3 linked regions of the Homo sapiens genome follow. The protein of the gene in region 3 interacts with the protein of the main gene of each other region in a biochemical or structural test. Each region holds a gene or a part of one and is shown on either strand. Other genes may lie near its edges.

Region 1 (7,715 bases), on a different chromosome or scaffold from region 3:
CACCATGTTGACCAGGCTGTTCTCAAACTCCTGATCTCAAGTGATCTGCCTGCCTCCCAAAATGCTGGGATTACAAGCGTGAGCCATTGCGCCCGAATGGAAATTAAATTAATTTCCACTGAGACATTTGTTTATAAGTACTGTGCTTTGTCTGAATTAATTAATTCCTACGTGGAATTTCAAATTAATGACACTTTATTTCATATTTTGCTTTTTGGTTAACTATATTCACAAGATTACATTACTATATGTGTGGTGTGGGTGTGGGACTTCATTTACCAATAAACTCAATATATTGTTATTTGTTCTTTTTTAGTATCCACTGACATGAATATTTCTTTTTAGCTATGTGATTTTTTTTTTTCTTTTTTAAGATGGAGTTTCGCTCTTGTTGCCCAGGCTGGAGTGCAGTGGCACAATCTCCGCTCACTGCAACCTCCGCCTCCCAGGTTCAAGCGATTCTCCTGCCTCACCCTCCTAAGTAGCTGGGATTACAGGCACCCGCCACCAGGCCTGGCTAATTTTTTTATTTTTAGTAGAGACAGGGTTTCGCCACGTTGGCCAGGCTGGTCTCGAACTCCTGACCTCAGGTGATCCACCCGCCTTGGCCTCCCAAAGTGCTGGGATTACAGGCGTGAGCCATCATGCCCGGGCTAGCTATGTGATTTTTATGTTGTATTTTGTTAATAGAATTCTCCTAGCCTGGGAAACAAAGTAAGACCCCATTTCTGCCAAAAAAAAAATTAGTAGGGCATGGTAGCATGCACCTGTAGTCCCAGCTTTGGGAAGCTGAGGCAGGTAGATCAGTTGAGCCCAGGAATTCAAGGCTGCAGTGAGCTATGATTGTATCACTACGTTCTAACCTGGGCGACAGAGCAAGAACTTGTCTCAAAAAAAAACCAAAAAAAACTTCATACTATATATTAATACAATTTATTTTTCCTTTACCAAACCACTTTAAAATTGCTTTTAGCACATGCATGATGAAATATTTTCTTAAAGTGCTTTTCTTGTAAAACATTTATTTATTTTTTAAGACGGGGTATTACCATGTTGCCTAGGCTGCTCTCGAATTCCTGGGCTCAAGCTATCTGCCCACTTTGGCCTCTCATAGTGCTGGGATTACAGTAGGTGTGAACCACTGTGCCTGACCAAAATGTTTCTTTCTAATATTTAAATATGTCTTATATACCAGCAAATATGATGACTTGCTCAAGAATTGTAATGAGAGCTAAAATCAACATCTGACTCTTCATCAGTAATCTTTTCAGAGGATAAGGAAAACAAAATAGATGGCTTGCTAGGGTAATAGGATTCCCTTTTCTTTCTCTTTTAGTCTGCGCATTTTTTTCTTTTTTATTTATTTATTTATTTATTTATTTTTTTATTGATCATTCTTGGGTGTTTCTCGCAGAGGGGGATTTGGCAGGGTCATAGGACAATAGTGGAGGGAAGGTCAGCAGATAAACAAGTGAACAAAGGTCTCTGGTTTTCCTAGGCAGAGGACCCTGCGGCCTTCCGCAGTGTTTGTGTCCCTGGGTACTTGAGATTAGGGAGTGGTGATGACTCTTAAGGAGCATGCTGCCTTCAAGCATCTGTTTAACAAAGCACATCTTGCACCGCCCTTAATCCATTTAACCCTGAGTGGACACAGCACATGTTTCAGAGAGCACAGGATTGGGGGTAAGGTCATAGATCAACAGGATCCCAAGGCAGAAGAATTTTTCTTAGTACAGAACAAAATGAAAAGTCTCCCATGTCTACTTCTTTCTACACAGACACAGCAGCCATCCGATTTCTCAATCTTTTCCCCACCTTTCCCCCTTTTCTATTCCACAAAACTGCCATTGTCATCATGGCCCATTCTCAATGAGCTGTTGGGTACACCTCCCAGACAGGGTGGTGGCCGGGCAGAGGGGCTCCTCACTTCCCAGTAGGGGCGGCCGGGCAGAGGCGCCCATCACCTCGCGGACGGGGCGGCTGGCCGGGCGGGGGGCTGACCCCCCCACCTCCCTCCAGGACGGGACGGCTGGCCGGGCGGGGGGCTGGACCACCCCACCTCCCTCCCGGACGGGGCGGCTGGCCGGGCGGGGGGCTGACCCCCCCACCTCCCTCCTGGACGGGGCGGCTGGCTGGGCGGGGGGCTGACCCCCCACCTCCCTCCCCGACAGGGTGGCTGCCGGGCGGAGACGCTCCTCACTTCCCAGATGGGGTGGCTGCCGGGCGGAGGGGCTCCTCACTTCTCAGACAGGGAGGCTGCCGGGCGGAGGGTCTCCTCACTTCTCAAGATGGGGCAGCCGGGCAGAGACGCTCCTCACCTCCCAGGCAGGGTCGCGGCCGGGCAGAGGCGCTCCTCACATCCCAGACGGGGCGGCAGGGCAGAGGCGTTCCCCACATCTCAGACCATGGGAGGCCGGGCAGAGACGCTCCTCACTTCCTAGATGGGATGGCGGCCGGGAAGAGGCGCTCCTCACTTCCTAGATGGGATGGCGGGCGGGCAGAGACGCTCCTCACTTTCCAGACTGGGCAGCCAGGCAGAGGGGCTCCTCACATCCCAGACGATGGGTGGCCAGGCAGAGACGCTCCTCACTTCCCAGACGGGGTGGCGGCTGGGCAGAGGCTGTAATCTCGGCACTTTGGGAGGCCAAGGCAGGCGGCTGGGAGGTGGAGGTTGTAGCGAGCCAAGATCATGCCACTGCACTCCAGCCTGGGCACCATTGAGCACTGAGTGAACGAGACGAGACTCCGTCTGCAATCCCGGCACCCTGGGAGGCCGAGGCTGGTGGATCACTCGCGGTTAGGAGCTGGAGACCAGCCCAGCCAACACAGCGAAACCCCGTCTCCACCAAAAAAATATGAAAACCTGTCAAGTGTGGCGGCGCGTGCCTGCAATCGCAGGCACTCGGCAGGCTGAGGCAGGAGAATCAGGCAGGGAGGTTGCAGTGAGCCGAGATGGCAGCAGTACAGTCCAGCTTTGGCTTGGCATCAGAGGGAGACCGTGGAAAGAGAGGGAGAGGGAGACCGTGGGGAGAGGAGGGAGAGGGAGAGGGCGCATTTTTTTCATTAACTTTCTTTTTTAATATAAGCAAAAGACAAACCTTGATTTTAGTTCTATGAACAATTTGTTTAGTAAGGCCCCAGTCAACTTGATTATTTTTCAACAACTGTGAATTTATATAATGATAGCCATTTTACATGATTTGTAGTTTTAAATGTTTAAATGTTAATCAGATTAGTTAGCTCTTTTTGTGTTTATTAGGGGTAAATTACCTTTCTCTTCTGAAGCGACAATTATACATCCATGATTGCTTTGACCAGAATATACGAGGGTATCCGCAATCCAGCATGTAATTAAATTACAATCTGAGTTACCCTTTCTTGAATGTGACATTCTTTCCGTCTCATTCCTATTACAATGTAATTTTCACCCTGACTTAGGTGTTAGGAATGCTTCAGAGACTAGTTATTTTTTATTTCTTATATGATTTTTTATTCTTACCCATATTGTGTTTTTCCCCACCCCTAGTACTTACAACCTTTTATTCTGTGGTTCTTGTGGGATTCCCGTTGGTTTCCATCTGTATTCTACCCATGCTGCCCTGGCTGCCTTGAGAGGTCACTTCTGCCTTTCCAGTGACAAAATGGTGTGGTGAGTAGACTTAGATATTGATCATCAAATACATTTTATTTTATTTATTTTGAGACAAAGTCCATCAAATAAATTTTAAAAGGTTTTTCAGGAAAGACAAAGTAGGCTGAGCACAGTGGCTTATGCCTGTAATCCCAGCACTTTAGGAGGCTGAGGCGGTGGATCACTCGAGGTCAGGAGTTTGAGACCAGCCTGGCTAACATGGTGAAACCCATCTCTACGAAAAATACAAAAATTAGCCAGGTGTAGTGGTAGACGCCTGTAATCCCAGCTACTCAGGAGGCTGAGGCACGAGAATTGTTGGAACCTGGGAGGCAGAGGCTGCAGTGAGCTGAGATCACGCCACTGTGAGATCACGCCACTGCACTCCAGCCTGGGAGACATAGTGAGATTCTGTCCAAAGGAAAAAAAAAAAAAAGTAGCTGGGCATGCTAGTGCACACCTGTAATCCCAGCTACTTGGGAGGCTGCGGCAAGAGAATTGCTTCAACCTGAGAGGTGGAGGTTGCACAGTGAGCTGAGATTGCACCACTACACTCCAGCCTGGGTGACAGAACAAGACTCTGTCTCAAAAAAAAAAAAAAGAAAAAAGACAAAGTGTTTGTACCAAAAAGATGCTAAAGTCAGGCACTGTCTTTGACAAAAAGATAGCAGTGGGCCAGGTGTGATGGCTCGCGCCTGTAATGCCAATGCTTTGTGAGGCCAAGGTGGGAGGACTGCTTGAGGGCAGGAGTTCAAGACCTCCATGGGCAATATAGTGAGACTCCTGTTTTTTTTTTATACAAAATTTTAAAAAATTAGCTGGATGTGGCGGCGTGCCCCTATAGTCCCAGTTACTTGGGAGGCTGAGGTGGGAGGATCACCTGAGCCCAGGAGTTCAAGGTTACATTTTGCTGTGATCATACCACTGCATTCCACTTTGGGTGACAAAAAAAAAAAAAAGCAGTGGGACCAAAATATAATCTTATAACATTATGATTATCTTCCATGTCTTATCATACCATATCTTAAAAGTCATACCATGGGAAAATTCAGAGGGTATTCTTTCATTAAAGAAACTTGTTGCCAGATGTGGTGGTGTGTGCCTGTAATTCTAGCTACCCAGGAGGCTGAGGCAGGAGGATCACTTGAATCTTGGTGTTTGAGACCAGCCTAGGCAACATGGTGAAGCCTCCCATCTCAAACTGCTCCCTTATGGGCCGGGTGCAGTGGCTCACGCCTGTAATCCCAGCACTTTGGGAGGCTGAGGTCGGGGGTTCACCTGAGGTCAGGAGTTCGAGACCAGCTTGGCCAACATGGTGGAACCCCATCTCCATTTAAAATACGAAAATAAGCCAAGTGTGGTGGCACACGCCTGTGGTCGCAGCTACTCGGGAGGTGAGGCAGAAGAATTGCTTGAACCCAGGAGGCGGAGGTTGCAGTGAGCCAAGATCAAGCCACTGCACTTCAGCCTGGGTGACAGAGCTAGACTCTGTCTCAGAAAAAATAAAAATAAATAAAAGATAAAAAGAACATTCTAGAAGGCAAGCTTTTGCAAAATAATGTTGCAGTAGATACCTTTTGGGTTTGTGCCCAGCCTCTCTCTCCCTCTAATAGGTGGGGCCTTGTATATTTGTATCATGTGTGATTTGTATCATGTGTGATTCCCACTCCCAGGTACTGGATCAAGAATGAATACCTGGCCAGGCATGGTGGGTCATGCCTGTAATCTCAGCACTTTGGAAGGCTGAGTTGGAGGATTGTTTGAGCTTAGGAGTTTGAGACCAGCCTAGGCAACATAGCAAGACTCTGTCTCTACAAAAAATTTAAAATATTAACTGTGTATGGTGGTGTATGCCTGTAGTCCTAGCTACTCTGGAGGCTAAGGTGGGAGGATAGCTACAGCCCAGGAGTTCAAGGTTACAGTGAGCTATGATTGTGTCACTGTATTCTAGCATGGGGAGCAGAGCAAGACCCTGTCTCTTAAAAACCAAAAACGGTGCTGGGCGTGGTAGCTCACGCCTGTAACCCCAGTACTTTGGGAGGCCGAGGTGGGCAGATCATGAGGTCAGGAGATCGAGATCATCCTGGCCAACATGGGAAACCCCGTCTCTACTAAAAATACAAAAAAAATTAGCTGGGCATGGTGGCGCATGCCTGTAATCCTAGCTACTTGGGAGGCTGAGGCAGGAGAATCACTTGAACCGGGGAGTCAGAGGTTGCAGTGAACCAAGATCGCGCCACTGCACTCCAGCCTGGCAACAGAGCGAGACTCTGTCTCAAAAAAAAAAAAAAAAAGAAAAATGGATACCTGACCCAAACTAAGCCAACCAGTTTTCTACCTTAGGAATTTGAAACAAGGGCCCAGAAATACCAGTTACGTGTAGATAGTACTAGTGTTGAAGTTTGGAAGTGAAAGCTCTATGTATGGGATAGCTATTTCCCATGTGATGCATGTAGCTGCAGGGAAGTCTTCTCTGCAGTAAAACATGAAGCAGACACAGAGAAAAGTAAAAATAATGATCATGTAGCCTCATAGTGTCAGAAAAACTACCCTACTGGTTATCCTTTCTCATGAATTACATTGGCTATTTCATTATTTTCCTAATAAATTGCACTTTTAACTTAAGCTTTTTTACTTATTACAAGAAACTGAAACATCCTTAGAAGTCTTTCCTTGACCATTAAAAAACAAAAACAAGCATTGACAACCTAGTTTATGTAGGCATTATGCTTATATCACTGAGTTCTTAATATAGTTTAAGAAAACTAGGGCTCAAAGAGGTGGAAGAGCTGAGATTTGAGCATGTCTTAACTCAAAAGCTTATTTTCCTTTCATAAAACTAAAAGGTTTCCTTTTTCTCATGTCTTTTTTTTTTTTTTTTTTTTTGAGATGGAGTCTTGCTGTGGCGCCCAGGCTGGAGTGCAGTGACGTGATCTTGGTTCACTGTAAGCTTCACCCCCTGGGTTCACACCATTCTCCTGCCTCAGCCTCCCAAGTAGCTGGAACTACAGGCGCCCACCACCACGCTTGGCTAATTTTTTGTATTTTTAGTAGAGACGGGGTTTCACTGTGTTAGCCAGGATGGTCTCGATCTCCTTGACCTCGTGATCCGCCCGCCTTGGCCTCCTAAGGTGCTGGGATTACAGGCATGAGCCACCGCGCCCGGCCGCTTTTTCTCATTTCTTATGCTTAGATAGATGTTTTTAGCTGAGTTATGGTTGACTAAACAATAAAACTTATCAGCCAGTCCTTTACCATGGGTTGCTCACTGTGCATTAGGTATACCATTTGTTCTTCATTGCAAATTTCCAACACAAAATATATACCTGAGATCCTGAGATGGATTGATCATTCTCTTTTTTTAAAGACGGAGTCTCACTCTGTCACCCAGGCTGGAAGTGCAATGGCATGATCTCAGCTCACTGCAACCTGCACCTCCTGGGTTCAAGTGATTCTCCTGCCTGGGCTTCCCAAAATGTTAAGATTACAGGCATTAATCACCATGCCCAGCCTCAATTTTTAGATTCTTTTTTTTTTTCTTTGAGACGGAGTCTTGCTCTTTCGCCCAGGCTGGAGCTGGAGTGCAGTGGCACCATCTCGGCTCACTGCAAGCTCCGCCTCCCAGGTTCACGCCATTGTCCTGCCTCAGCCTCCCGAGTAGCTGGGACTACAGGCGCCCGCCACCATGTCTGGCTAATTTTTTTGTATTTTTAGTAGAGACGGGGTTTTACCGTGTTAGCCAGCATGGTCTTGATCTCCTGCCTTGGCCACCTAAAGTGCTGGGATTACAGGTGTGAGCCACTGCGCCACCAATTTCTAGATTCTTAAGCAATTTCTATTTAGAATTAACTTTAAAGTGGGAAAAAAAACTGTAAATGTGTGCTGTTAGTAATCCCACATCTTTTTTAGAAATCAGTACAAAAGTAAATGTTCTAGAGAAGCAATAATTGCATTTTTGTTAGGGCAGTAAGCTTTTAGTAACATATTTTTAACATAAATTTGAAAAGCATTATGGGATTTTGGTTAATTTCTTAATCTTTAAAATGAGTTGGATAAAAGGTCAGGACATTCTTTTTGATTAAGT
Region 2 (7,715 bases), on a different chromosome or scaffold from region 3:
AATTGGTATGTTTAGACCATTTAATTTAATTATGTTGGATTTAGGTCAATAATTTTATTATTTGTTTTCTGCTTGTTCCATGTAAAAAAATCCTCCACTTCTCTTCTTCTTTGCCTTCTTTTGGGCTATTTGATTTTCCAGTATTTTAATTTATGTTTGAAATTATTTCTTTGTATAGTTTTTTTAGAAGTTGCTCTAGGGATGACATTAAATATACTTAACTTCAACAGTCTACTTAGAATCAATATTTTACTGCTTCAAGTGAAATGTTAATATTTTTATTTTAGCAGGTCATCAACCTGGTGGTATCCCAAGCTATACGTTCAGTCTACTATCATTGTTGTTTCAATGTCAGTTTCATTTTTCAAAGCTCTGCAGTGCTGTTAGGATCTTCCTGTGTGTGGGACACTGAGTAGCTAGCCTAGAAACTGGGTGTGGTCTACTGTTTAGTTCAGTTCTCAGTCTTTTATATGCTCTTTAGGACCATGTCCACATATGTACAACTCCTGGGTGGCATAGAAGTTCATAAACAACTTTATGGGGTTGCTTTTCCTACTTCCTCTCTTTCCGCGATTTCTGGTTCCCTGGAGTTTCCCTTGTCAGTGCTCTGGCCAGAAAGCTGGGGCTTTTATTACTCTGCTCTGCTGTATGCCTCACACAACTGAATTTTTGTCCAGTACCAAGCAACAGACAACAGAAAGAGAACAGAAGCAACAGGTACTTGCCCCACTACTTTGAGGCAACCATTCCTAATTGTAGAGAAGGTTCTCATCTCTCAGAGTTTTAGATATATCTCAGCCCCAGCTGATGCTGTGACTGTAGCCCCTGCAGGATTGCATGGGGACTGAGTTAAGAGAAAAGACAAAAACAAAACAAAACAAAACAAAACAAAACAAAAACAAACCAAACCAAACACTGGGGATTTCCTCTACTGTTTCTGAGTGTCAGAAGTCCCCCTTTCTGCTCCTCAACCCAGAACTGGAGAGCTCCTCTTTAAACTCTCTTTGTTACCCTTCAGTGCCCACTTCTAGGTTTCTAGTATCCTTGAGTCTCACTTGTGGGGCACCAAACTTTACTATTTATAACACTTGTTAGGCCGGGCACGGTGGCTTATGCCTATAATCCCAGCACTTTGGGAAGCCAAGGTGGGCGGATCATTAGGTCAGGAGTTCAAGACCAGCCTGACCAACATGGTGAAACCTCATCTCTACTAAAAATATAAAAATTAGCCAGGCGTGGCAGCGTGCGCCTGTAGTCCCAGCTACTCAGGAGGCTGAGGCAGGAGAATCGCTTGAACCCGGGAGGCAGAGGTTGCAGTAACCGGGATTGTGGCATTGCACTCCAGACGGGGCAGCAGGGCGAGACTCCGTCTCAATCAAAACAAAACAAAACAAAAAACAAAAAAATGCATTTCTTAAAATATGAAGCTACGTGAGAGAGTACTATTTGGCTATCTTGAAATATTACATGGGAATGAAAAGGTCACTTTTACTTTCCTCATACTTAGGCTTTCCTCGTACTTTCCTCGTATTAGAGATGACCACAAAAATACCACTAGGAGTTATGTGTAGTCTATCTCCATTCCCTGTGCAAATTATAATTTCTCCCTTTTTTTTAATGACATCTTCCATGTTAACCCCTTATTGCTATTTTTATGTCTTTAACTGTCTTGTGGCTGCTCTGTAGATATTTCGGAATGAAATCTAACTACTTACCAATGAAGTTTCTGTAACTCCTTCTCATTCCATTCCTTATCCTGAATTAAACCAGGTAAGCATTCTAAGGGATGCCTATTTGTCTTATCAGATCCTACTGCCTCAGTAATTGGAAACTCTTTCCTAACACCAGACTTCTGAAGAGTTTCTTTGACGGAAGGTCTAGCTTTCTTTTGTTTGATATAAAATTCATTTTCACTTTCTTCAGTTTCAGGTTCCAAAATCACTGGAATATTACTTGTGTTTCTTGTGCTCTTTCTCAGGTGAACCACTGCTTCTTTGGTGTTTCCTGCTTTGGTTTTCTTAACTTCAGCTTTCCTTTTAATTTCCTTTTCTGTTTCACTTTCTTCACTTGACAAATCTGGTGAGGACTGATGCTTATAAAATGACATAGCTACCTGATTTTCTATTTTCTTCAATTTTGGTAATAGTCTGGTATTTTTCTTAAAGTCAGAGGTGAGCATTTGTTCCTTTTCAAGGTTAGATATTTTTATTTTCCGGTTGACAGTAAGTAAGTCACGTTCATCGCAATCTTCCTTGTTTTTACTTTTATGACCTTCAAATGTATTTTCTAAAGTCCCCATGGACTTGCTGATGGGACTTTTTTTTTGACACTCTGGTATTACAAAATCTGTTACTGCTTTGATGGTGCCAGCGGACAGATTATACCTCATGCATCTTTGCTCTATCACTTTTCTAGATTTAAGTGGTGTTACTAAAATATAAGCTTTCTTCTGATTGATGGCCATGTATTTTCTTTCTTCATCTGAGAAAAACTGTTCCCTTGAGGTTAGAATATCAATGGATACATCCAATTCTTCAGTTGTCTCTTTAATTTCATAAGACAAAACCAAAGACCAAAATCTCAAATTAGCTATAAACAAATATAAGCACAGAAAATATATTTTCACAAATAAAAGATACTATTTTTATCCACGAGCTACACTGTATACCCACCTGTCATATTAATCTTTCTGAAGCCCAGGTCTATTCAGACCACTGCCCCTTCAACTGTAAACATATACTATTGTTTATACAAACCTGACAGTGACTTCTCACAGTCTTTTAGTAGACATATAAATAAGCTCCTCTGCCTGGCCTTCCACATAGTTCCAATCTCTCACTGTTGTCAAAATCTCAACTATATTCTATGTTCAGAACCACACCACTTGCTATTTCTCAGATTTTCTTGGTTCTCCACTTTTAATAATGTTGTCCACTCTGCTTTGAAGATGTTCTTCATTCATCTATAAACAAAATCACTACCTGCTTCGATTTTATTCTCTAACCCACCTAGTGTACAAACTTGTACACATTCCCTACACTGAATGAAAGCTCTCCTTCAAGTTTCCAGAATACTTTAAATAATGCCATGTTTGACAGTGAGACATGTATTATAATTGCACACTTGTCTTTCAATCAGACTGGAAAAAATAATTAATGGTTAGAACTTTATCTGTATGGTTTGATTTTTTTTTTTGCTGGAGTTAGTACAGAGCCTTTCACATATACAGTAGGCAATAAGTAAATACTTGTTAAATCAAAGCCCTGGAGGTAAAATATTCAGAAGATATAAGAAAACCAGTAGTCACTGAAACCTTACTAAGTATTATATGAGCTGTGCTAGTTAGGAGGACATGGAACTCCATCTGCATGGTTCCACTTTCATTGCCAATGGTGGTCATAGAAACACACTCAAAATGAATCCCCCCAAACACCATGAAGTACAAAACAAGCAAAAGAGAACAACCTGAGAATCTTATATCTTGTCACTAAAGAAAGCAAATTAAAATGAGAACAATTCACCAATTCAAAACCTAAGTAATGAGAAGTCAAACTAACTGAAACTATCCAACTGTAATTAGAAATACATATAAACTGCAAATCATCCCACTGTCATAGAAACATATTACAACCACCTCCACATATTATGTGCCATTGTTTACAAGATGACTGACAGAATGAGACTGATAGATAATATTGAATGCTGGGGAGAAAAGAAGCCTCTAAATTACAATCCGTGGAAAAAGGTAATAATCAAAATAATTTAGAAAGTGTCTACAAGATTTTCCACTGGCATCATATATCTTCAAATTATGAGAAAAGTATTTTCTTCTAACTCCTCATATAAATCCAATTCAAATGTTTACCTGGGAATTTGAAAATTTTCAACATTATAATTTTGAACAATATTTCCATTCAGAGTATTTGTTAATTTTAATAAATTATTTAATAAAGATCCAGCTATCTTGGATACTTAAACCGAATATGAACTCGGAAGTATAAGTAGCACTGCTTTCCTATCTTCTTCAAACAAATAAATGTTCTTCACTTTCACTTCTTTTCACTTATAAGAGGAAATAAAACACAAAAAAATGCTATAAAGCTAATGGATTTAGCTCAACATGAAATTGTAAACTTGCTAACATTTAGACGAAAGCCTCTAAATTATGGCATGCAGGATTCCAATTAAATCACTCTGAAAATCCACACTTAAAACTAAATTATTGTACTAAATTCATAAAAGGATTCACTCTTTACACATTCCTGTAAGCATATGTTAAATGATATATAGTTTTGTGATCTAAACAAATATTTTAGTACCCAGATTAAAGAAGGCAAACCTGTAAGTATAGGTGGTTTTTAAAAGGGCTATTTTATTATGAAAATCATCTTATGTAAAAATAACAAAACCAAACATTTAAAAACATTAAATAATTTGCCATTTTACATGAGGAAATTTACAAGATCACTTTTATCATATTAAAAACATTTCACATAGTAGCTTTCTGCTTATGATTAAAAAACCATTAAAGATATATTACCTTGCTTCTGACTTTTTATTATCCTTTCATTTGTTCTTTCACCAATTTTTAGTTTCTTTGAAGACATTTTATATTCTTTTTTTCCAATTAATTCCTTCAAAACAAAAAGATACCTAGGTTTTATTTTAAAACTACTACCAAAACATGATCTGAAGCATTTTCATAGTATGCATCAAGCATACAAATTTCTAGGTACTTACAGTTCCGCAAATTTCATTAGTGGACACATTCCGAAACTTACTTGCCAGACCTTGAGCACTACGAGCAACATCTGGGAATCCATTATCCTACATATTTTCTACATTAATTTAATACTTTGTGGTTTTTCAAGTGCTTTTAAAAATATGCTTTATTTAAGCTTTACTCTAAAAGCTAAAACTTTTATTGTTGCCTGCATTTTTTCATTGAGAGACAGGGAAAATAAATATCAAGACATTCAGTCCCCAAGTAAATGAAAAGCTGATACTTGAAAAACAGAACTCTTGGCTGGGCGCAGTGGCTCACGACTGTAATCCCAGCACTTTGGGAGGCAGAGGTGGGTGAATCACAAGGTCAGGAGTTCGAGACCAGCCTGGCCAATATGGTGAAACCCCGTTACTACTAAAAATACAAAAATTAGCCAGGCGTGGTGGTGCATGCCTGTAGTCCCAGCTACTCGGGAAGCTGAGGCAGGAGAATCACTCGAACCCAGGAGGTGGAGGTTGAGGCAGGAGAATCACTTGAACCCAGGAGGCAGAGGGTGCAATAAGCCGAGATCACGCCACTGCACTCCAGCCTGGGCAATAGAGGGAGACTCCATCTCAAAAGAAAAAAAAAAAAAAAACAGAACTCACGTCCCTGATATGGTCCCAAACCTTTTCAGTAGTAAATCACCCTTCTAAATATCAACTTGAACTATACAGTGTACAATAAAGCCTTACCTGATTAGATAAGTCATCTCCTCCTCCATTTTGAATAGTATTATTTACTTGGTCATCTGGGAACCTTAATGTTGGTTTATTTTGGCAATTACTGTGGCACATGTTTAATTCTGTAGCTCCTGGTGACTCACTGTGCTTATTACTCTTCAGTTCTATGAATACAAAGATGGAGATTTCAATAAATGGTTATATAAAAGAGAAGCTGCTTTTCTACATGAAGAATTAACTTTGACGCTAGGTGTGGTGGCTCACGCCTGTAATCCCAGCACTCTGGGAGGCCGAGGGAGGAGGATTGCTTGAGCCCAGGAGTTCAAGACTAGCCTAGGCAAAATAGTGATACACTGATTCTACAAAGAATAAAAGGTTGGTGCAAGCCTATGGTCCCAGATACTTGGGAGCCTGAGGTGGGAGGATCACTTGAGCCAGGGAGGTCGAGGCTGCAGTGAGCCGTGATTGTGCCACTGTACTCCAGCCTGGGTGACAGAGCAACACCCTGTCTCAGAAATAATAATGATAATCTGTCTAATCCCTCTGTCATAAATATTTGTTATAATTTGACTAGGATATAAAGCAATTTTATTTGGAAAGAATCACTCTGTATAGCGCTACGCTACATTTTGTTTGAATCACTTTTTTTCCTTCAAAAAAAATTTAAAAAGCCTAGACAGCCATATTATTCACGACCATCTGTTTTGGATCTCCTTTGTCACATCTAAAGACAGAATAGTAAGGTTAATCCATTTTGTAAATAAAAATTCCTGTTCATCCTAACTGCACATCAACTAAATAGAAAGCTAATAACTGTTCTTCTTCTATTTCTTCATGTATGTAGAATTATGTTTCAACTAGTTTATGTACTCCAATGTATAACTAAATTTCTGTAATTAAAATTTTGAGCAAAACTAAATTATACAGTATATAATATATGCTCAACAAACAGTTACTAAGCTGGAATTCTAGGTAAGTTAAAACAGATTCATAAAAAGTATAAAAACATTTTGTTATTTTTCTAGAAGCTATTCTTTAAAGATGTACTGACTAGTCCTTGCTCTTGAAAATATTACCATATAATGAAGGAAGCTTCTATTATGATAGGTCATTTATCATATACTCTGGTAAGTGTAATAACAGAGATAAAGTGCTTTAAGAGCAATACTATGATACACAAGTACTTTTTAGGCAAATCATTAAAACACATACATAAAATTACATTATCTTAAATTAACATGGGTTGGTACCTTTACATAACCTTAGCTATATAATGTTAGATGTGGTTTTGTTTTTTTCATGCAAAGTGCAATGATAATAATAAAATTAATAACAGCCCCAACCACCACTCAAAATAACTTACGTGATATGAAGATAGTGTCTAACAGTTTCATTAAGAAAAGATCTAATGAATTACACTAGAAAAATGATGCAATCATAACAGAATATATTAATATTTGCCCCTAAACCAAGATCCCTGGGGGTGGGGGTGGGGGGAATCATGCCTTATTCATCTCTAAGTTCCTAAAACTTAATAGACCAGGGTTCATGGAAAGCACTTTAAAAATGTTGACACCAGGTGCCATGTTTCATGTCTATAATCCCAGCACTTTGGGAGGCCAAGGTGGGAGGACTGCTTGAGGCCAGGAGTAGGAGACCAGCCTGGCAACATAGTAGGATCCCATCTCTACAAGAAATAAAAAACAAGCCAAGTGCAGTACTGTATGCCTGTAGTCCCAGCTACTTTGGAGGCTGAGGTGGGAGGATTGCTTGAACCAAGGAGGTTGAGGCTGCAGTGAGCCATGATTGCACCACTATATTCCAGCCTGGGAGACAGAGCAAGACCCTGTCTCAAAAAAAAAAAAAAAATTGCTGAGTGATTTTCCTATGGACACAGCTGGTATGTAAAATAGTTTACCAAACTTTAGTCTTTTAAATTTGTATTCATTTCTCTTGTCAATAGCTTTCTTAAACACTTTACTGATAATATTTGCAATTAAGATCAAATCCCTAATAAGTGCTGGCTCTAAGTGAAATGGGGTACAGGAAGAGGTAAGAACCAAGACTAAAGACCAACAAATGATTAAAAGTGAGATATACTGTCAAGGATTTTCTTGTTTTAGGAGTAAAAAAGTAGAGAGCAGGTGCCGAAGCCCCAAGGTTCCAGCATACTCAAGATGCTCCAGCAATAAAAATAGGCAATATGCCTAATTTAGAGAAAATAGGATGACTTTTGATAAAAAGAGGAAGGGTTGAGAAGGAACTAG
Region 3 (8,783 bases):
GATTGTCTCAAGGTGGTCTGCTCTTCGCAACTCTCCTTCTTTCTGGTAACCTCGCCCAGCATCCCTCTAGGTCGAGGGAGGGGTGGTGTTGGCCTCATTGCTTTTAACCTGGATTCCTGTACCATCCCTCATGGTTCTCTCCTACAAACCTTTGCAAAGAATCCCTCCCCACACGAGCAGAATTTTAGTGCATGCTCTCTGTGTTCTTCTAAGGTCCTCTTAGGGAATAGACAATTCTGTAGGCACTTTCATTGCAAACAGAATCCCAGTGAAGAAATGGTAGCGTCAGTCCAAGATACTAATCAACATGGCAATCTTCACTACAGGATGAGAACTGTTTTCCCTTTGCCCCAGGTAGGACATAGGCCGCCTTAGCCTTCCCTGCCTCAGGTGGGGAAGGGGCTGTGGCTGGCCCTGCTCTTTCCCACCTCACCTGTTCCCTGCGGTTTTCATTTCTGCCTAGCCTGAGATGGGGAAAGTGGGGGATAGGACAGTTTTCACTTTGATATGGTTTGGCTCTGTGTTCCCACCCAAATCTCATCTTGAATTGCAATCTCCATGTGTTGAGGGAGGGGCGTGGTGGGAGTAATTGGATCATGGGGGCAGTTCCCCCAGGCTGTTCTCATGATAGTGAGTTCTCACGAGATCTGGTGGTTTTAAAGTGTGGCACCTCCCCTTGGCTTGCTCTCTCTCTCTCCTGCTGCCACGTAAGACGTGCTTTGCTTCCCCTTTGTCTTCCGCCATGATTGCAAGTTTCCTGAGGCCTCCCCAAGCCATGCAGAACTGTGAGTCAGTTAAACCTCTTTCCTTTATAAGTTACCCAGTCTCAAGTAGTTCTTTATAGCAGCATGAGAACGGACTAATACACACTTGAACTTGTTCTAACTTTGTTTTGCACTCTTAGGTAAGATCTAGTTAGACCTGACCCTCTCTCCTAGTCCCCTCGGGGACTCCCTGCACATCCCAAATCCCAGTGCATGCCCATGACCCACTGGGCAAGGCCTCATCTCAGGCTGGCTTTCCCTCTGCCCTGGTTCTCCAGGAGTGCTGTTCACACTTGACTCACCACTGGGGAGTCTTCGTGCTTCCAGGTTAGCTCCTTAGGCAGAAATTAAGACTCTAGGTGACATCCTGCCAGCAAAGTTCCGATCTGGCTGACAACCTACCTTGTTTGCCTTTGTTGTGCTACCAAAACACACGCAGCTTGACGCTCCTGCAGGTCACCCTGTCCCCAAGTGCCTGGGAACCAACAGGTATGTAAGTGTCTCCTCAAAGTCTCTTATCAGCCAAATTGAGGCAAGGAGGCAGATACCCTCATTTTCTCTATTGGGGAGGGGCCCATCTCCAAAGAGATCCTTCCAGTGAAGTCATCTTGGTCACGATTTTCTCCCTTCCTTTATATTCCCAAAGTGTGTGAGAGAGGTGTTTAAGAGAAGGAGGAAATCAGCTAGCATGGTGGCCCATGCCTGTAATCCCAGCACTTTGGGAGGTCGAGGTGGGTGGATTACCTGAGGTCAGGAGTTCAAGACCAGCCTGGTCAACATGGTAAAGCCCCGTCTCTACTAAAAATACAAAGATTAGCTGGGTGTGGTGGCACGTGCCTGTAATCCCAGCTACTCGGGAGGCTGAGGTGGGAGAATCCCTTGAACCTGGGAGGTGGAGGTTGCAGTGAGCTGAGATCATGTCACTGCACTCCAGCCTGAGTGACAGAGTGAGACTCCAAAAAAAAAAAAAATAATAATAAGCAGGAGGAAATCATCTCTCCTAAATCTACTCTGAAGATTCCCCCAGGAAGGAGGGCAATCTCTCTCACACACACTTTGATATCTCATTTTTACTTCATCTTGGAGTCTTAGTGGAAACTTCAATTTTAACATACTGTAACAGATTGCTACATACATTTTTGGTTGCTAGTAAAAACAAAACAACAATTGAAACTGGCTTCCACAATAACTGGAACTGGTTGGCTCACACAACTGGAAGGATCTAGAGATTGGGTGCTGTTTCTCTGTGATTCCCTTACTCAGATTGGGCAAAATTGAACTTGACAAGGCCAAGTTTTTATTCTGAGCCAATCCCTATTGCCAGGGGAGCAGCACGGGTCGCCAGGGGTAGGTGCCATCCCTGCCCCAATCGCTATGGAAGAGTCATGGTCATCCTGATTGATCGGGTTAAACCTCTAGGGACTCATTCCCGGAACTGGTGGTGAGAGTGGTGGAGATGGACTCAACCTTATCCAAATCTCCTAGTTAGATAACTAGGAAGTACGGTGAGAATGTAGTTTAGGAAGCAACCACAACCACAAACTACGAGGTCATCTTTTTCAAGCATCTCATTTTGTCCTCCCATAAATATGATGATTTTGTGGTTAGCTGAGGTTTTGTTTTGTTTTTTATTTTTTTGAGACAGGATCTCATTCTGTCACCCAGGCTGGAGTGCAATAGCATAATCACAGCTTACTGCAGCCTCGACCTCCCAAGCCCAACCCATCCTCCTGCCTCAGCCTCACAAGCAACTGGGACTACAGGGGCGCACCACCATGCCTGGCTAATTTTGAAATCTTTGTAGAGACAGGGTCTCTCTATGTTGCCCAGGTTGTTCTCAAACTCCTGGGCTCAAGTGACTCTCTCGCTTCAGCCTCCCAAAGTGCCGGGGTTACAGGCATGAGCCACCATGGCTAGCCTTGTTTTTATATTCATAATATTAATACAAACACACTTGTGCCTATAGAGGAATTCATTTTGCATCAGCCAACTTCTCCATGATGTGCAGGAGGCATCATGCCTACAAACCATGATATTCTGAAGGACCATGAAAATGTTTCAATTTTTTTAATCAAGAGCAATAAATGAACTTACAGGTCTAAAAATGTTTTATGATATCATTTTAATATAATCATCTTCATAGCAATGTGACTATAAAATGAAATTTTTATTAACTGTTTTATGGAGAGAAAGGCCTACTAAGGCAAAAATAGGGCCCCTGAAAGTCACCACGCAGCTCGGCCTTGTATTCCTTCTTTCCTGGGGCATCCTATCATAGAATTTAAGTATTGACAATAGGAACCCAAAGTCTGAGACAAGATGATCCTTTGAATCCCCAAGTAACTAGCCACTTACTTAAAGAACTCATGTGGATTGTATCAATGTTGTACCAGAGATATTATGCTTGAAAACAACAGTCCAGGAAGGTCAGGCTTGGCTCTACAAAAGTAGAAGGGGCAAAGTATGGTGAGGCATGCCTGTAGTTCCAGCTACTTGGGAGGCTGAGGCAGGAGGATCGCTTGAGGCCAGGAGTTCGAGACCAGCCTGGGCAACATACTGAAACATCATCTCTGAAAAAATAAAGAAAAGAAAAAAAAAAGCAGAAGGAAGGAAGGGAATTCTATGGGTAAAAAAAAAAAGCCTAAATTATCTAAAGCATTTTCTTCCAGTAAGAAGGTGATTAACATGAGCATGGTGTGCCAGGGTTTACAAAGTATTTTCATGAATATTAGAAAACTCGATCCTCATGAACAACTTGGTGTAGTACTGAAGAAACAGACTCCATTTACTCCATGAAGAATTAGACTCAGGGAAGGCAAACAGCCTTTTCCACAGTTCCCTACACTGTTACTACCTTGTGGAGGGAGGGGTAAGTTAACCAGGACCACTGACTCCAAAGCTTTTGCTTTTTGCTAGTGGCTGTAAGCACTAAAATTGGAAGTACATTTACATAAATAGTTTATGCAACCAAGCAAAATAGGCAGTGACTTGGGGGACACCCAGAGCGTAGTAGGAACAGAGTAGGTCCTTGCAGGTAGCTTTCTTCCCAGGTATACCACCAGACTGTCTGTGGTGCAGCTGGCTGGTTCCCCGCCAGCTTTCCCTCCTGACCTACGGTGTTTTAGGCAGAGGCTGGCTTTCTGGGGCAGCTGAGGAAATCTGTCCTTATCATCAACAAGGGATGCTTCTTCCTTGCAAGGACGAATTGTTCCTTGATCCAAGCAGCAGGGACACTTCCAGGCTTTCCAGGGGCACTGCTGCTTCCTCAACTTTTTCCTTGCAGTGACAGCCTGAGTGATCCGGGGCCCTTCCCAGGGTCTCATTCCAGGGATAGCAGTGCGCAAAAGGACCCTGTGATGAGGGACTCCTCTATCCCCTTCCTTCTCCACTTCATGGAAAGGAGGTCCCCAGGAGCCGACAAAATAGAGCAGTGGTCATCAAAAGTGGAGCTGCTTATATACAACTATAATTAGTCCACTTACAAAAAAGAAGAAAAAGGGTGGTGGTCTGGCACAGTGGCTTACGCTTGCGATCCTGGCATTTTGGGAGGCCGAGTAGGGAAGATCGCTTAAGGCTAGGAGTTCGAGACCGGCAACATAGAAAAACTCCCCCCCCCACCCCCCAAAAAAGGTTGGGCTGCCAATACTGACAGCGTGGGCACGCCTAGGAGCTTGTTAGAAATGCAGATTCTCGGGCTAACCTGCTACCTGCTGAACCAGAGTCTGCGAAGATGGAACCTGGCGATCTGCTTAAGAAGCTCGCCAGGCGGTTCTTAGACACTCAAGCTTGCAACCCGTAACTTTCTCAGTGACGCTGCCCCTCCCACGGAAAGGGGTGAATAATCCTTAGGAAGACAAGCAAACAGGTCTGCATCATCAATTTCTTCAGGCTGGAAAACCTGACGCAGGCGCAGTGACTATCACGCTTGGCCAAGGCCGCACGGCGCGCATGCGCACTAGAGGCCGCCCGCCGTCCCGCCCCCTTCAGGCTTTTGCCCCTTCTCGGCCTCCGCCACCGCTCCCCGCCCCGCGCATGAGCAGCGGCGGTTTTTTTTCCCATGGCGCTCTGGGGCGCGGGCGATTTGTAGGTAATGGCAGGCGTTCGGTCACTGAGGTGTAGCAGAGGATGCGCTGGCGGCTGTGAGTGCGGCGACAAGGGCAAATGCAGCGACTCCTCGCTGTTGGGCAAGAGACTCTCCGAAGACTCGAGCCGCCACCAGCTGTTGCAGAAGTGGGCGAGCATGTGGAGCTCCATGAGCGAAGACGCGTCGGTGGCCGACATGGAGAGGGCGCAGCTGGAGGAGGAGGCGGCGGCTGCGGAGGAGAGGCCGCTGGTGTTCCTGTGCTCCGGCTGCCGGCGGCCGCTGGGCGACTCGCTGAGCTGGGTGGCCAGCCAGGAGGACACCAACTGCATCCTGCTTCGCTGTCAGTTGGGTCGAGCCGGGCAGGGGGGGCGTGGGGTCGCCTTCTTCCAGGGGTGCCGCGCGTGGGCGGCCCGGGAGGAGGCGGGGGCTCCTTGGGGCTGCCCAGGGACTTTAAGAGCAAAAAGTCTGAGAGTGTGAGCTGTGGCAGGAAAAGGGGAGGAGGGTCACCCCTCCACTTTGGCTCTCGGGCGGTGGGTTCTTTTCTGGGGTCCCCGATCCCAGAAGAGCAGTGGTTGAATCAGCATCATCGTGAGCATTACTCAGAAACAAAGGGCGACAAAGAATAACACTTTTAAAGACCCTAAAAAAAGAGAAACAAATGGTCAACTAGACTGTAAGCACTTGAGGTGCAGCCAGTACTATTACTCCCCATAGAAATTAGCAGGCTGTTGGTGTATCAGCGGATGCCTCTACAGCCTCCAGTGATAGAGCCGCAGAGTTGACGGAACACAGTGCTATAGGGAAGAAAGGGAAGGAAACTTGCAATAAAAGCACCAACAACCCCATGAAAACTGGCGAGGAAGGAGGATGTAGCAAAAGAGTTCAGAAGAAGGCAGGAATTAGTTTCTAATCCTGGTTCTAGCAGTTACCTCTTACCTCTGTTGTTCCACTGTTCCCTCATTTTGATGTTTTTGCAGTATTTAGGGATAAAGTGGTTCACATATTTTTTATGAATTGGTGTAAGAATGGCTGTTGTTTTTGGATTGTGATTTTTCAAGATGAAGTTTTTTCTGTCTTTGAATGCCGTAAATGTTCCGATGGCAGTAATTCACCACCGGCTTATCGACGTTTCTGGAACGTTTTCCTTGGTGTAATACTGGGAATAAAGGAGCACACCAGTGTCCAGTAGTTAACTGAAAGTTGAGATTAACTCTTTGCACCTATCAAAATCAAACCAGGCCGAGCGCGGTGCCTCAGGCCTGTAATCCCAGCACTTTGGGAGGCCGAAGTGGGCGGATCACGAGATCCGGAGATTGAGACCATCCTTGCCAACATGGTGAATGAAACCCCATCTCTACTAAAAATACAAAAATTCCAGATCAGCCTCGCCAAAATAAAAAATTAGCCGGGCATGGTGGTGTGCGCCTGTAATCCTAGCCACTCCGGAGGCTGAGGCAGGAGAATCACTTGAACCCGGGAGGCGGAGGTTGCAGTGGGCCGAGATTGCGCCACTGCACTCCAGCCTGGAGACAGAGCGAGACAACGTCTCAAAAAAGAAAAAAAAGAAAAAAGCAGATTTTTGGTTAGGTAGGAAAAGCTCTTTGTTTGAATGAGATTCCCTTGTTTACATGTTTTTAAGGAATAACGTGTTTGATGTTACATCTTTCATTTTATTTGTTTGTTTCGATAGAGTGTATTTTTTGCCATGTGGGCTCTTTTCGTTGTTTTGCGTTACTTATAGAAAGACTGTTTTTGTTATTTAATTTTTATAACAATAGCTTTTAAATTTAAAACATAGTTCTAAAATAGTAGTTTAAAATTTAAAGAACTATACATTTTTTGATTTATCAGATTTAGATAATAGGATTTAACACCTCCCCACACCCCCCAGTAAAGACAAATAAATGAACTCGGATTCATTTCCATTCCTTCCTTACCCAATTTGAATTAGTTTAATTATTTTCATTTTGTCAAGGTTTATACATTTACATTCTGTACATTTACATTCTGTTCTGTAGCTATAACAGCCTAACTATGATTTTTTAAAATAGGATTATTTATTTAATAGGTTTTTTTTTAATAGGGTTATAGTGGGTTAACAGCCCTCTGTTGCCCAGGTTGGAGTACAGTGGCGCAATCATAGCTCACTGTATGTAACCTTGAACGCCTGCTCAAACTATCCTCCCGGCTCAGCTTCCCAAGTAGCTTGGGACTACAGATACACACTAACACCTGGCTAATCTTTAAATTTTTTGTAGAGACAGAGTCTTGCTATGTTGCTCAGGCTGATCTCAAACTCCTGGCCCCAAGCAATCCCCTGCTTCGGCCTCCTAAAGTGCTGGGAGTACAGATGTGAGTTACAGCACCCAATCCTATAAAGTTTATATAAATTGTTTTCCCAACTCCAGTACTCATTAACATAAAAAAGCTTCTTAATAGCTTTTTCATTCCTGAATTGTTTGATTAATCATTAGTGCTCCCCACGTCCACATCTCCAAGAAAATTTCAAGTTTATGTGCTAGAAAATATTTTCCTTTTTTTTTTTTTTTTTTTTTTTTTTGAGACAGAGTCTCACTGTGTTGCCCAGGCTGGAGTGCAGTGGTGCAGTCTCAGCTCACTGCAAGCTCCACCTCCCGGGTTCACGCTATTCTCCTGCCTCAGCCTCCTGAGTAGCTGGGACTGCAGGCTCCCGCCACCACACCCCGCTAATTTTTTTGTATCTTTAGTAGAGACGGGGTTTCACCATGTTAGCCAGGATGGTCTCGATCTCCTGACCTCATGATCCGCCTGCCTCGGCCTCCCAAAGTGCTGGGATTATTTTCCTGTATTTATAAGTGAATGCTAGCTTGGCTGCAGGTACAGTTCTTGGTCACGCTCTTTGCTTTTGACAGGTGCTGAGCAGCTGGTGCAAAAGCCTTGAGACTGGTTAAAGAGAATAAAGATAAGATTTAGGGAGGAAGGAAGAGATCAGAAACTGCAAGGCGTTGTAGTCTGTTCTAAAGAGTAGTAATCTGTTCTAGTGAGTACGTTATTATGCTAGCTTAGGCAGGGGAGTAATGTGACCCCGCATTTTCTTTGGAGAAAGCATTGAAGGAGGAACAAGTATGGAAGTGGGGAGGTTAGTGAAGAGCCAGGGCAGTAGTCCAGGCAAGAGGTGGTGCTGGTGGTTTGGGGGCTGGAGTGAAGTTTGTGAGGTAGAATTGATGGGATGGATCAGTGGAGTAGATACAGGGGAGCAGGATGAGGAGACAAAGAATCAAGGATGACACCCTGGTTTCTGATTTCAGCAAGCAGGTAGATGGAGTTGGAGTTTACCGAGTTAAGGTAGACTGTAGGAGGCCGTGAAATCAAGAGTCTGTTTTGGCCATTTTAGGTCAGATGTCCCTTCTTCATTTCTCTTCACCCTCTACCCTGTCCTTTAGTGTTTCCTAGAGCTGGATTCTTTGGGAATGTTTGCTGCTGCCTCTGAAGTCCAGCAGTGACCTCTGTCCAAGTCATTGTTCAAGTAAAAGATGTGTGGCTGGGATCCTGAGGACCCTCTCAGTTACTTTTAGAGAAATGGGCCCTGTGTTTGAAATCTGGAGATATATGTGTTGGCTGTTTGCATCTTCCTAGGTTTGGAACCCAATTTCACTATCTGGCAGATAATTCTTTGCAGTGTGTGATTTGAGGTTCTACTTGTTCCAAGTTTACTGTGGAATGAATTTTCCCCTCTAATTTTAGCCATTCTATTAATGTTAGTGGTTTTCAGGGAAAGGGAGGAAATAACCTTTTAAAATTTTTCTTAAATTTTTATTTAAAAATTTTTTTTTAGAGATGGAGTCTCGTTATGTTGTCCAGGCTGACCTCGAACTCCTGGCCCCAAGCCATTCTCTCACCTTGGCCTCCCAAAGGGTTGGGATGACAGGTGTGAGTCCCTGCGCCTGGTTGGAAAT

The links.
Region 1: the proteins of MIS18A (region 3) and OIP5 form a complex in vitro, tested with the Homo sapiens proteins (3 studies listed by BioGRID).
Region 2: the proteins of MIS18A (region 3) and MIS18BP1 form a complex in vitro, tested with the Homo sapiens proteins (2 studies listed by BioGRID).

What each region holds. Positions count from the first base shown.
Region 1 is NC_000015.10:41,315,592-41,323,306, reverse strand, and holds part of OIP5 (protein Mis18-beta), read left to right. Parts: intron 1-3,526; coding exon 3,527-3,649; intron 3,650-7,715. UniProt on the Homo sapiens protein: Required for recruitment of CENPA to centromeres and normal chromosome segregation during mitosis.
Region 2 is NC_000014.9:45,222,203-45,229,917, forward strand, and holds part of MIS18BP1 (mis18-binding protein 1), read right to left. Parts: intron 5,613-7,715; coding exon 5,461-5,612; intron 4,635-5,460; coding exon 4,541-4,634; intron 2,545-4,540; coding exon 1,716-2,544; intron 1-1,715. UniProt on the Homo sapiens protein: Required for recruitment of CENPA to centromeres and normal chromosome segregation during mitosis.
Region 3 is NC_000021.9:32,275,086-32,283,868, reverse strand, and holds the start of MIS18A (protein Mis18-alpha), read left to right. Parts: upstream 1-4,819; 5' UTR 4,820-4,854; coding exon 4,855-5,188; intron 5,189-8,783. UniProt on the Homo sapiens protein: Required for recruitment of CENPA to centromeres and normal chromosome segregation during mitosis.